Regions from separate parts of the Homo sapiens genome. Here all the other regions are linked to region 2. The links come from fine-mapping of genetic effects on gene expression. A gene starts in region 2. Each other region holds a variant in brackets. All regions are shown on one strand. Distances are between the middles of the regions.

Region 1 (4,240 bases), 77 kb before region 2:
TTCAAGACCAGCCTGAGCAACGTAGCAAAACCTCATCTGTATTAAAGCAAAAAATGTAGCTGGATGTGGTGACACACTCCTGTAGTCTTAGCTACACAAGAGGCTGAAGTAGGAGGATCATGAGCTAAGGAAGTTGAAGCTGCAGTGAGCCCTGATTATGCCACTGCACTCCAGCCTGGGCGACAGAGCTTGACCTTGTCTTAATAAATCAATCAATCTGATATGAAATAGACCTGAGTGCTGTAATGATTGGGAAAGGAAACCTAAAAATGCATTTATTAACATTAACATACTTTAAAAACCCAATTGAAAACTTTAAAAATCAAGATTACAATAAGCTAGGCAGAATACAAAAGATGGACAAATCAACACCACAAAGCAATGCACAAAATCTATACCTGCAACAAGTATATTGAAATGGAGGTTCCTGTCACAATAGAATCATAAAAACAAAATGTCTGAAATTAGTTTGTTGGGAAATGTGAAGATAAGTTTTGGAAGAATTACAAGTAAACTTACATAAATGAAAATGCTTATCAAGTTCAAGGATAGATGGCCAATGAGTAAAGTGTCAGTTACCCAAATTCATCACTAGATACAATGAAAGAGCACATAGGATTATAACAGAGCCTTTTGGGAGGCTTGACCCTTGAACTTTCTTTTGTGCTTCCTCCTCCTCCAGTGTGAGAAAGAACTGATTGCTATTCTTCACATAACCAATTGGCTTCAAACTCATCTTAAGGAGAAACGCCTGCAGAAATGACTAGTTCAGGCATGTTCTTTGCTTTTGCCAATAAATTTGGACTTCAGAGCCATCAATAGCATACAGTTCTTATCACGGAGTTATTTAGGGGCCATGGCGAGGAAATCATTTTGTGGTTCAGCAAGTTGGCACAGTTTATTTTGAATGGAAGTGTGTGATTAATTCTGGGCACCTATTTTCACCCAGAGAGGACCCATGCCACACTCTATGAACAGAGAAAGAGAGACAGCATCCACATCTGCATGGATCACTTGAGTCCACCACATCCCAGAGTGTGCTTCCATGTCACACTCTTGGACTTGTGGAATATCTCCTTTCCATCGTTGCAGCCCCTTGGCTGTGCCTCTGAGGCTACCAGGCCCTTCCTTCTGACTGCAGTGGCCTCTGCTCTGCATGAGATGTCTGCCTTGCAGGAAGTGTCTCTGAGTCAGGGCAGCAGGGGCCATCCTGAGCCAGCAGAACTGGTTACCTGTGATGGCTGCTCCTAGGAGTCCCCAAACTGTGGCTTAGCATGACCAAACGAGACTTGAGAGCAAAAGCTGGTGGGGAGCAAGAAAGGGTTATCATGTAAGGTGTAGTTTTGGCAGAAGTGACAGTATGCCACCATTCATGATCTTAAATTTCACTGACTGGGCACAGTGGCTCACATCTGTAATCCCAGCACTTTGGGAGGCTGAGGTGGGTGGACTGCTTGAGGTCAGGAGTTCAAGACCAGCCTGGCTGATATGGTAAAAACCTTTCTCTACTAAAAATACAAAAATTAGCCAGGTGTGATGATGCATGCCTGTAATCCCAGCTTCTTGGGAGGCTGAGGCATAAGAATTAATTGAACCCAGGAGGCAGAGGTTGTAGTGAGCTGAGATTACACCACTGCACTCCAGCCTGGGTGAGAAAGCAAGACTGACTCAAAAAAAATGTTTGTTTGTTT[G/T]TTTTTCATTAAGTCCAGGCTGGGCACAGTGGCTCATGCCTGTAATCCCAACACTGTGAGACCAAGGTGGGAGGACTGCTTGAGCCCAGGAGTTCAAAACCAGCCTGGGGAACATACTTGCCCAGTTTTTTGTGTGAGATTCCATCCCTACGAAAACAAAACACTAGTTGCGTGTGGTGGTGTACACCTGTAATCCAGGTACTCGGGAGGCTGAGGTGGGAGGTTCGCCTGAGCCTGGGAAGTTGAGGCTGTAGTCGCACCACTACACTCCAGAGACTCTGTCTCAGCACAAATAAAACTAAAAATTACAAAATAAAAAATGTAATTAAATCCAGATGTAAGGGCTTCTACGGTTGACCCCTGGGCTCAAGTATGAGCTGTAACCAGTCACTGTCCCTCCTTTGGCTCAGCCCTCCCCAGTGTATGGCCTTGGTTCTTTCTGAGGCACACGTCTTTGCAGTCCTAAGATGGTGATTACAGTTCCAAGTCTAGCATTTAGCCGTGCAACATTTGGCTGAAGAAGTTGGCATCAGGAAGTGTATTTGCTTTCTATTGCCACTGTAGCAAATTACCAAAACTTTGTGTCTTAAAACAACAACAAATTTATTGTCTCACAGCTCTGGAGGTCAGAAGTCCAAAATGGGTCTTACTAGGCTAAAATAAAGATGTCAGCAGGACTGTGGTCCTTCTGGGGGGTCTAGGAGAGAATCCATTTCTTTGCCTTTTCCAGTTTCTAGAGACTACCTGCCTTCCTTGGCTTATGGCCCCTTCCTCCAATTTTAAAGCCAGCAGTGTAGCATTTTCAAATCTCTCATTCCATCATCACATCATCTACTCTGATTCCTGCCTCAAGTTATACAAAGACATTTGATTAAATAGGGCCCGCCCCAAGTAATTCAGAATAATCTCCCCATCTCAAGAATCTGGCCAGGCATGGTGGCTCATACCTGTAATCCCAACACTTCGGGAGGCTGAGGCAGGAAGATTGCTTGAGCCAAGGAGTTTGAGACTGGTCTGGGCAACAGAGCAAGACCGTGTCTTAACAACAACAAAAATAGCTGGGTGTGGTGGCATGCATCTGTGGTCCCAGCTACTCAGGAAGCTGAGGCAGGAGGATCGCTTGAGCCCAGGAGTTCCAGGCTACAGTGAGCCATGATCACACCACTGCACTCCAGCCTGGGTGACAGAGTGAGACCCTGTCTCTAAAACAAAAACAGATCCTTAATGGCATCTTCAATGTCCCCTTTGCCATGCGAAGGTAACATATGTATAGGTTCCAGGGTTTGGAATGAGGACATCTCTGAAGGAAAGGGGGCATTACTCTCCCTACCACAAAGAAGTAATACAACATTTTGGCCGGACGCAGTGGCTCACGCCTGTAATCCCAGCACTTTGGGAGGCTGAGGCGGGCAGATCACGAGGTCAGGCATTCGAGAACAGCCTGGTCAACACGGTGAAACCCCTTCTCTACTAAAAATACAAAAAATTAGCCGGGTGTGGTGGTGCGCGCCTGTAGTCCGAGCTACACAGGAGGCTGAGGCAGAAGAATCGCTTGAACCTGGGAGATGGAGGTTGCAGTGAGCCGAGATCGCGACACTGCACTCCAGCCTGGGCAACAGAGTGAGACTTTGTCTCAAAAAAAAAAAAAAAAAAAAAGTAATACAACATTTTCGGAAGACTTCTCTGTTGTTGACTCGCTCTGACCCTGTTAGCCAGGATTGACACATGCATCCATGTCCTGGCTGGGAGAAAAGCTGGAAAAGAGTGTAACTGGTTTTTTTGGCATCTGTAGAAGGCGCCAGACTGTGCTGCAATGAAGGTGGGTGGCACAGCCACAGTAGCTGGCACAAAAGTCTGCTTGGGTGGAGCCCATCTACCCCAGAGACCTCTCCTCACATTAAGTTATAAGGCCACAAACCAGATCCGGATGGAAGTTTCCGGACTTGCTGCCAGCAAAGATCTGGAACTGAGGGTCAACAGCTCATGCCTGCAATCCCAGCACTTTAGGAGGCTGAGGCAGGAGGATCACTTGAGGCCAGGAGTTAAAGACCAGCCTGGGCAACATAGTGAGACTCCATCTCTACCAAAAAAATTTAAAAATTAGCTGGGCATGGTGACATGTGCCTGTAATCCCAACTACTCAGGAGTCTTAGGTGCGAGGATTTCTCGAGCCCGGGAGATTAAGGCTGCAGTGAGTTATGATCAGGCCACTGCACTCCAGCCTGGGCAACAGAGTGAGACCCTGTCTCCTAAAAAAAAAAAAAAATGGAACTGAGTGAAGTCCCAACATCCAGGGAGCAGCTACCAGGACATGGGGACCCTGGTGGAGGATTGAATGGGGTGCTGGAAGGGAAAGATGGCATTTCGCTCAGGTAAGGGAGAAGTGTGAGCTCTCCCTTGGGTATAGGAGGGAAGCCAGAATTTCAAAACGTGACAGAGAGAGAGAGACAGAGAGACAGATTGTGAAATTGAGAGAAAAGTCTTTTTCACGTGAGGCTGCGCGGTGGCTCACGTCTGTAATCCCAGCACTTTTGGAGGCTGAGGTGGGC
Region 2 (4,240 bases):
CTTTATCCCTGGTTCCTGGCACAGAGCTAAAAGCCTTGGAATTTTGTGAATAATAGGAATAGGGTTTGCAATTCATAAGGAGCCCGTTTCGACCACACCTGAGTTTATGCTAATGAGGTGACTCCAGTGGGACCCATAGATATCTTCAGGATGGGGATAGTCACCTTAAAGAAGGTATGGACCCTCTCTCTGCCCCACGATTGAGAGAGCTGGGTTGGTGAACACATCTGAGTGCTGGGAGGATGGCTCACCCAGACGGTACATGGATGCACTGCACCTTCAGTGCCCCTGACCAGACCTTAGCTGTGCATCTCTTCCATTTGGCAGTTCCTGAGTTATATCCATTAAAATAAACTGGAAAGACTGGGCATGGTGGCTCATGCCTGTAATCCCAGCACTTTGGGAGGCCATGGTGGGAGGATTGCTTGAGCCCGGGGGTCTGAGACCAGCCTTAGCATTATAGTGAGACCCCATCTCTTAAAAAAAAAAATTAGCTGGGTATGGTAGCGCACACCTGTAGTTCCAGCTACTCGGGAGGCTGAGGTGAGGATCACTTGAGCCTGGAAGGTCAAGGCTGCAGTGATTCATGATGGCACCACTGCACTCTAGCCTCAGTGACAGAGTGAGACCTTGTCTCAAAAAAAAAAAAAACATAGCTTTCAAAACTGAGCAATTTTTTTAAAAATTAGAAAATGGGCAAAAGATACGAACAGATACTTTAATGAAGAGGGTATACAAATGCCAAAAAAATCATTAAAGTGTGCTCAAACTTGTTAGCAATTAAGGGAAATGCAAATTGAAACCACAATGATATATCAGTACATACCTATCAGAATGGCCAAAATAAAAAATAGCAAAACACAAATGCTGATAAAAATGTGAAGTGGATTCACACATTCATTGGTGGTGGGAGTGTAAAATGGTCCAGCTACTCTGCATGAGAGTGTGGCAGCTTCTTACAACACTAATAAGCACGTGTTCATTGTGTGACCTAGAAACTGCACTCTTGGGCTTTTATCCCAGAAAAGTGAAAACTTACGTTCACAGAAAAATCTGTACACGAATGTTCATAGCAGCTTTATTTTTAATAGCAAAATACTTAAAACGATCCTAATATCTCTCAGTGGGAGAAGGTTTAAACTGCTATATACCATAGAATACTACTTCTCAATAAAATGGAATGAACTGTTGATACATACTACTTCAATGCCTCTCAAAGGAATTATGTTCAGTGAAAAAGCCAATCTGAAGAGGCCACATACTGTATGATCCCACTTATATGACACTGTGAAGGCAAAATTGTAGCAGTGGACTACTTAGATTAGCTGTTCCTGGGGTTATGGGTGGGGAGGGAGTGACTACCAAGAGGCAGCAGGAGGATTTTTGGGCAGTGGAGCTATTCTTTGTCCCGAGTTTGTTGGTGGATATGAGTTAAAATTCATAAAACTGAATACCAAAATGTGTGGTGTATGTAAATTTAAAATATATAAACTGTTCAGATATACATTTTAAAAATCAGTTCACACAAAAACGACCAAAATGGCATCCTCATAAGCGCCTCTATCTGGAAAACTGAAATGGGAAGCAGCTCCTGGCCCTATCCTGCCTTCCAGGGGGGCTACATTTATATGGGGCTTTGCCAAAGCCCTCACCCCAGCTGCCACTCACATTTCCCTCATTTCAGCAGCTCCTGAATCCCTGGGGTGGGTAATCTTTGAGTTCTATCCACTCCTTGAAACTGTAGAACCCATTTTAGCGCATCAGTGTCTCTGGGTCTCCACCTCTTGTCTCCCCAGTACTGGGTCTGCTGGTCCCTGTCTCTGTATCTCTGTCCAGATCTGTCTCAGCCTCGAGTGCTCCTTTTCTCTGGGTCTCTCTCTTTTCCTGAGCCTGAGCTGGTCTCTTTCTTTTCTTGAGCCCATGCTGGTCTTTCCCTTTCTTGATCCTGGGCTGGTCTCCCTCCTTTCTTAACCGTGAGCTGGTCTCTCCCTTTCCGTGTCCGACTCTGTACATCTCTGTTTCGGGGACCCCAGGGCGTCTTGGTCTGCCCCCGAGCGTCTGTGGGCCTTCATGCTTCTCTCCCTCCCGGTCTGCGCGTCTTTTTGTCTTTGTTTCTCCGTTTCTCACCGTCTTTGTTTCTCCGGGTCTCTGGCTGTCAGGGGTCTATTATTTACCCGCTTGTTTACTTCGTTGCCATGGTGCCCAAAATGACGCAGGCGCCGGAGTGGGCGGGACGCCGGGAGGCCACACTCGCGTCTGATTGGCCATGCGCACTGTCACCTGTCACGGCTCCCTTGCTCGCCCCGGTGCGCGGCACAGCCTCGCGGCATTGTGGGAGTCGTAGTCCGCGGTGAGGCCCAGTGCGCAGGCGCAGTTTGCCGGCCGCCATCGCGCACTGGGGCTCCGGGCGGCTGGGACCGGCCTGGGGTAGCTGCGCAGCAGGTGGGTCGGTCCCGGGGATGCAGCGCGGGGGTCAGAGAGCGACCCCAACAGGGTAGACGGTGAGGACGCCTCAGTGGGCAGCGTTAGGGAAAGGGGCCAGGGTGTTCCCGGGGTTGGGGTGCGAGCCCCCGCTGTGCGTCCAGGAGGCCGAGGGTCTGGCATCCCTTCGCGTGGAGTGCGGGGCAGGGGCCGGGTCCCCCCGGAGGTGGCTGAGATCCAGATCGGTGAGGGGCCCTGCAGGCAGGTAGGGAACTAGTGCAACCCCCACCCCGTGTAGGCTCGTGGAGGGGAGGCGCTTAGGGCACCCTGTGGGTGGGAGAACAGGAAGGGGCGGCTCCTGATGGGGGAGAGATGAGGGAGGGGGAGGCTCCTGATGGGGGAGAAAGGGGGGAGGGGAAGGCTCCTGAGGGGGGCGAAAAGGGGGAGGGGGAGGCTCCTGAGTGGGGAAGAGAAGGGAGGGGGAGGCTCCTGAAGGGAAGAGGAGGGGAGGAAGTGGGGGCTGAGGGTGTGAGGATGTGAGGGTGTCCGTGGTGGGGGGACGCTGGGCAGGCTGTGGCCCCAGGGGCTGGAGCAGGGAAGGGATGGAGGGTGCGGGGACCAAAGGGGTGCCTAGAATGGGCATTGTCTCTGCTGCCCCCACCCTTGGAATATCTCGCCTCTCCCCAGTCACCTGGGGGTGGGTTCTGTTTGAGTTAGGTGTCTGCGCCCACCCCGGAGACCTCTCTCGTGGAAGAGGCAAGAGTGGGTGTACTGGCTTCGGTCCTGACCCAGGGGGTTGGGGTGGGGGCCTGACTCACCCTCCCATCACTCCTTCCCCATTTCCTTTCTCTCACCCTCCTGGGCTCCTTCCTTTTCCCAATCCCCCTCTACCCCCGTCCAGACTATCTGGCTTTCCCTGCTCTTGCTCCTTCCTCTCCTGTCTTCTCTCTCCCTGCTACCTTCCCTCCCCGCTTCCCCCATTTCTGTCTGCCCTCCTTCCACTTTCCCATATATTCGCCTGTGTCCTTGCTGACTCCTGGGCGAGGCTGAGTGGCACAGTCACTTGGTTCCATGTCACCTCCTCGGTTCCATTTCACTTCCCCCATCCCATCATGTCCTGCGGATGGTTTCCTGCCCTGGAGTCAGAGCGGGACCACGTGTCGCATCGAGTTGCTGTTTTCTGTGCATGATGCTTGAATCTGTGACTTCCTGGGTATTTCTGGCCTCGGGTTTTCGGGGAGCCTAGGCCAGTTGCGCAGGACATCTCTCTGGTTCTGTCTGTCCTGGCGAGTGGATCAGGGACCACAAAAGGCAGCTGAGATGTGAACGACGACCCTTACTCCATGTTTTTTCATTCTTTTAAAAGCACTTTTACCCCTTTTTATAATGAGTAAGTGATCTGTGGATGAAGCCAGGGCAGACCCTGGGAATATCCGGCGACCCATCAACAACCACATCCCATGCATTGAGCTTCCCTGGCTGATCCTCAGGCCTGTGGCTGTGGGGTGGTTTGCTAGACCCTGCCGATGAGTGTGGTGGGATGGAGAGCTGCGATGAATATTCCTCAGGTGGCCAGGGCTGGGCCCACGGAGGGCCAAACCAGGCTTGAGCTCTGCTCAGCCCAGGATGAAGGGGATTTGCTGCAGGACTCTGGAGACCCACCAGGCTTGGGACCCCTCAGCTCAGCCACCCCTCACCCACCGTGGAGCTCTCTGCCTCAGCTTCTGTATTCCAGGCCTCTGGGTGCAGCAAAGCCTACAGGACTGGCTCAAGACTTGTGCAGATTGCTTCATTTGCTGAGGCTGGGGGGCTGGGCTCC
Region 3 (4,240 bases), 97 kb before region 2:
AGAGATCAGATATGTGGGAGGTGGCAGAGAATGTAAAGTGTTCTTCAATAAAAGATCACAAAGCATGAAATGACTCTGCTTCACTGAATTCCAGCCAAAACATGTTTGACAGCCACCCAACATTCCAGACTCAACCTAGTTGCCAAGAATGTGGGCCCCGCAGAGTTCTTTGTAGCACTCTCTCAAGATTTTCCTTTACCCTCTCTTACCTACCCTTTTGTTTCAAAGCCTGGCCTTGTATTCAGTCTTCTCTTTGAAGACATATTCTTGTCTCCTGCAACTTCTTCAGACATCTATTCACTCAACGTTATGTACTGAGTTCCTAGTAATTCAGTCATTGTGTTAGCAAATGGGGACATACAGAAGTAAAAGAACACCTGCTCTCATCCATATTTTAAATATTTGTTCTAGATGTTCAGGTCAGATAATAAGCAAATTAGAAGAGACAAGACTACATTTATATACTTATCAGTGTTTTATGTAGGGTTTGCCTTCTCTACGACATGATATAAAAATAGGATGAGACATTTCATTTTTATTATTCAACGGGGTTCTTTTCAGTGTATATTTTTTTCGTTCTGTCACATAAGGTGAGAGTTAAGGCTGGTCATTTGTCTGCACAGATTTCATTCACAGGATGTTTGCCCATATGAGTCCTCTGATGCTGAAAACAATGAGGACTCCTACTGAAGGGGTTCCCAAAATGCTGTGTTCAGAGAGGGATCCTTGCCAGTGAGTTCTGGGACACCCGAAGGCTTCCCAGCCCTATGTTCTCAGGTAATCTCTAGTACAACTTCTGTGATGCTGAATAAGGGAGCTATGCATAAAACCTTTCCCACAGCAATTATATTCTCATGGTTTCAGAAGCTCTTAGATGTAATACTCAATGTAAGAACTTTTCCAGTATGAATCCTCTCAAGATAAGACTGAGTTAGGCCAGAAGTCTTTCCTCACGTGATCATATTTCTGAGGTTTCTTCCCTGTGTGAGTTCTCAGATGGTGAAAAGTTCATGAAAAGGACTTACTTCATTTGGGGTGTTTGCTGGTTAATGTCCCGTGAAAGATGGCAAAGACATTAAAGAGGGCAAAAACATTAAAGAGGGCAAAGACAGGCTGAAAGTGAATTTTTTCAAACTAAACACATTTACTCCATCTTATTCTTGGATAAAAGAATGGTATGCTGTTGATCACTCTATAGCCTATGTGACCCTCTCAAGCTATACAAAGGATGGAATCTCAAGAAGAATTTGGCTTTCTTCCTCCCAATAAAACACTCACCTCATCAAACTTATTTTTCAGACTCATGTTTGGTCTATGTTTCAAAAAAGCTGCTAAGTTCTTATTTGTAGGACTCATTTCCTACTTAACTTTGTTTTTTTTTCTGCAGTGGCAGGATCCCAGCTCACTGCAACCTCCACCTTCCAGGCTCAAGCCAACCTCCCACCTCAGCCTCCCAAGTAGCTGGAACTATAGACACACGCCACCATGTGTGGCTAATTTTTTCTATTTTATGTAGCAATAGGGTTTCGTCATGTTGCCCAGGTTGGTCTCAAACCCCTGAGCTCAAATGATCTGCCCACCTTGGCCTCTCAAAGTGCTGCAATTACAGGCATGAGCCGCCGTGCCTGGCCTCTACTTAACTTCTTGACAAGTAAAAAATGTAAAATGCCCTGCAGGGTTTCCTAAATCATGACCTTCATAATAGTCTCTTCCCTGCATTCCTTTCCTAATGACTAAATCTGTAATAGTTTACATCTCAAGTATTCCACCCAAGAGCCACATATATGGCAATGGTTCTTGAAGGGACATTAGTGAGAGCTGAAGATTCGAGTGCCACCTATTTTCCCTACATTGCTTACTGTCACAGCATCATTCCTCATTCAGTGCTTTCCTGAGGATGAATGCCATTTGTCCTAGCATTTGTTTCCCTTCTACTTAAACCAGGGGTCCCCAGCTGCCAGGCCATAAACTGGTACCAGGCTGCACGGCAGGAGGTGAGCGGCAGGCAAATGAGCATTACCATCTGAGCTCCACCTCCTGTCAGATCCGCAGTGGCACTGGACTCTCACAGGAGCATGAACCCTATTGTAAACTGTGCATGAGGGATCTAGGCTGCATGTTCCTTATGAGAATCTAATGCCTCATGATCTGGGGTGGAACAGTTTCATCTCAAAACTATCCCTCCCCACCCCAAGGTCCACGGAAAAACTGTCTTCCACAAAACCGGTCCCTAGTGCCAAAAAGGTTGGGGACTGCTGACTTGACTGCCATTCTTGCTATCATGGGAAGCTCGAGAAGCACACAGAGTTGTCAAAATGGCCCAAGTCTAAACTCAATACCAGTTCTGTCCATTAATGAGATGCACAGCTA[T/A]GCCACTGTTGGGAGAAACTGACCACTTTAGAAGACAGTTCCCCGTCTCACACTCACAGTAAAGCATTCCATTCTAAACACCTATGACTTCCACACGGATGTTTTTATGTGCTGTGTGGATCTCCTTCTTAGGTCTAAATAGGTGTATTCGACTGGATTTGCAAACCCTTGAGTGTCTCTATGGTGCCTTCTCATTCATCTGTCATTACAAGAATCAGTTAAGACATGGGACAATTCAAAAACTTCAATCAATGTGAAAGCTATTGAGTTATCCATACTATTAGTGTGTATATATATACACACACATATATACACACACATATATGTGTATTTTTTTTTTTTTGAGACAGAGTCTCACTCTGTCGCCAGGCTGGAGTGCAGTGGCACCATCTCGGCTCACTGTAACCTCCACCTCCTGGGTTCAATCGATTCACCTGCCTCAGCCTCCCGAGTAGCTGGGACTACAGGTGCACACCAGCATGCCCAGTTAATTTTTGTATTTTTATTTATTTATTTATTTATTATTATTATTATTTTTTGACATGGAGTCTCACTCTGTCGCCCAGGCTGGAGTGCAGAGGTGCTATTTCAGCTCACTGCAAGCTCCGCCTCCCGGCTTCATGCCATTCTCCTGCCTCAGCCTCCTGAGTAGCTGGGACTACTGGCGCCCGCCACCGTGCCCGGCTATTTTTTGTATTTTTAGTAGAGATGGGGTTTCCGTGTTAGCCAGGATGGTCTCGAACTTCTCAGGTGATCCACCCGCCTTGGCCTCCCAAAGTGCTGGCATTATAGACATCAGCCACCGCGCCCGGCCGAAGAAAAAGATTAAAAATTATTTCAACACAAAAAGTAAAAAACAGACCAGGTGTGGTGGCTCACACCTGTAATCCCAGCACTTTGGGAGGCCCAGGTGGGAGGATCACTTCAGGTCAGGGATTTGAGACCAGCCTGGCCAACATGGTGAAACCCTGTCTCTACTAAAAAGTCCAAAATATCAGCTAGGTGTGGTGGCAGGTGCCTGTAGTCCCAGCTACACAGAAGGCTGAGGCAGGAGAATTGCCTGAACCTGGGAGGTGGAGGTTGCAGTGATGTGAGATGGGGCCACTGCACTTTAGCCTGGGTGACAAAGTGAGAGCCTGCCTCAAAAAAAAAAAAAAAAAAAAAAAAAGGTAAAAAACAAAACACAAAAAACACAGAAAACACAAACCCCTTATTTCCTCCCCTCAGCAAAGTCTAGGTCTTTACCAGACATCCCCACATCCTTGGCTAATGCCAAAAACTCAGAAATAATTGTTCTCCCTTATCATACACACACACACACCCACACACACACATATTTTTGAAACAAAGGCTGGAGTGCAGTGGTGCACTGCAATCTCAACCTCCCAGGCTGAAGTGATCCTCCTGCCTCCACACCCAGCTAATTTTTGTTATTTTTTTGCAGAGACTTGTATTCACCATGTTTCCCAAGCTGATCTCAAACATCTGGCCTCAAGCAATCCTCCTGCTTTGGCATCCCAAAGTGTTGGGATTACAGGTGTGAGCCACCACATCTGACCCTTTTATCTCATATGTGATATAGATATATAGATATAGATATAGATATATTTTTTTGAGACCGTTTCTTGCTGTGTTGCCCAGGCTGAAGTGCAGTGGTACAATCACAGCTCAATGCAGCCTCAAACTCCCAAGCTCAAGCAATCCTCCTGCCTCAGCCTCCCAAGTAGCTGGGACTACAGGGATGCAGCACTGCATCTGGCTTATTATTTTTATTTTTAGTAGAGATGACGTTTTGCTGTGTTTGTCAGGTGGTCTTGAACTCCTTAGTTCAAGTGATCCTCCCACCTTAGCCTCCCTAAGTGTTGGGGTT

Which allele goes with the higher level. Alleles are on the strand shown, and positions count from the first base shown. SD is a standard deviation of normalised expression in the study named. Not every link is listed here.
For the expression in CD4 T cells of the gene that starts at base 2,385 in region 2, allele G in region 1 goes with a lower level than allele T (moderate effect, 0.65 SD a copy in CEDAR).

The links. PIP is the estimated chance that this variant, and not a neighbour inherited with it, causes the effect.
Region 1: its variant is the best candidate, but not a certain one, in a credible set for the expression of ZSCAN18 in CD4 T cells (CEDAR, PIP 0.84).
Region 3: its variant is the best candidate, but not a certain one, in a credible set for the expression of ZSCAN18 in whole blood (INTERVAL, PIP 0.67).

What each region holds. Positions count from the first base shown.
Region 1 is chr19:58,173,599-58,177,838 of GRCh38, reverse strand. LOC124904784 (a long non-coding RNA gene) reads right to left here. Exons shown (of 2, transcript XR_007067360.1): 2 at 250-1,302. Among named protein-coding and RNA genes, the nearest start is that of ZNF274, 7.3 kb to the left of the region's middle. The variant G/T (reference allele first, on the strand shown) is at 1,692.
Region 2 is chr19:58,096,376-58,100,615 of GRCh38, reverse strand. It overlaps ZSCAN18 (zinc finger and SCAN domain containing 18), which reads left to right and starts at 2,385. Exons shown (of 7, transcript NM_001145543.2): 1 at 2,385-2,442.
Region 3 is chr19:58,193,670-58,197,909 of GRCh38, reverse strand. The region is part of intron 4 of ZNF274 (zinc finger protein 274); the gene reads right to left. Among named protein-coding and RNA genes, the nearest start is that of ZNF274, 13 kb to the right of the region's middle. The variant T/A (reference allele first, on the strand shown) is at 2,371.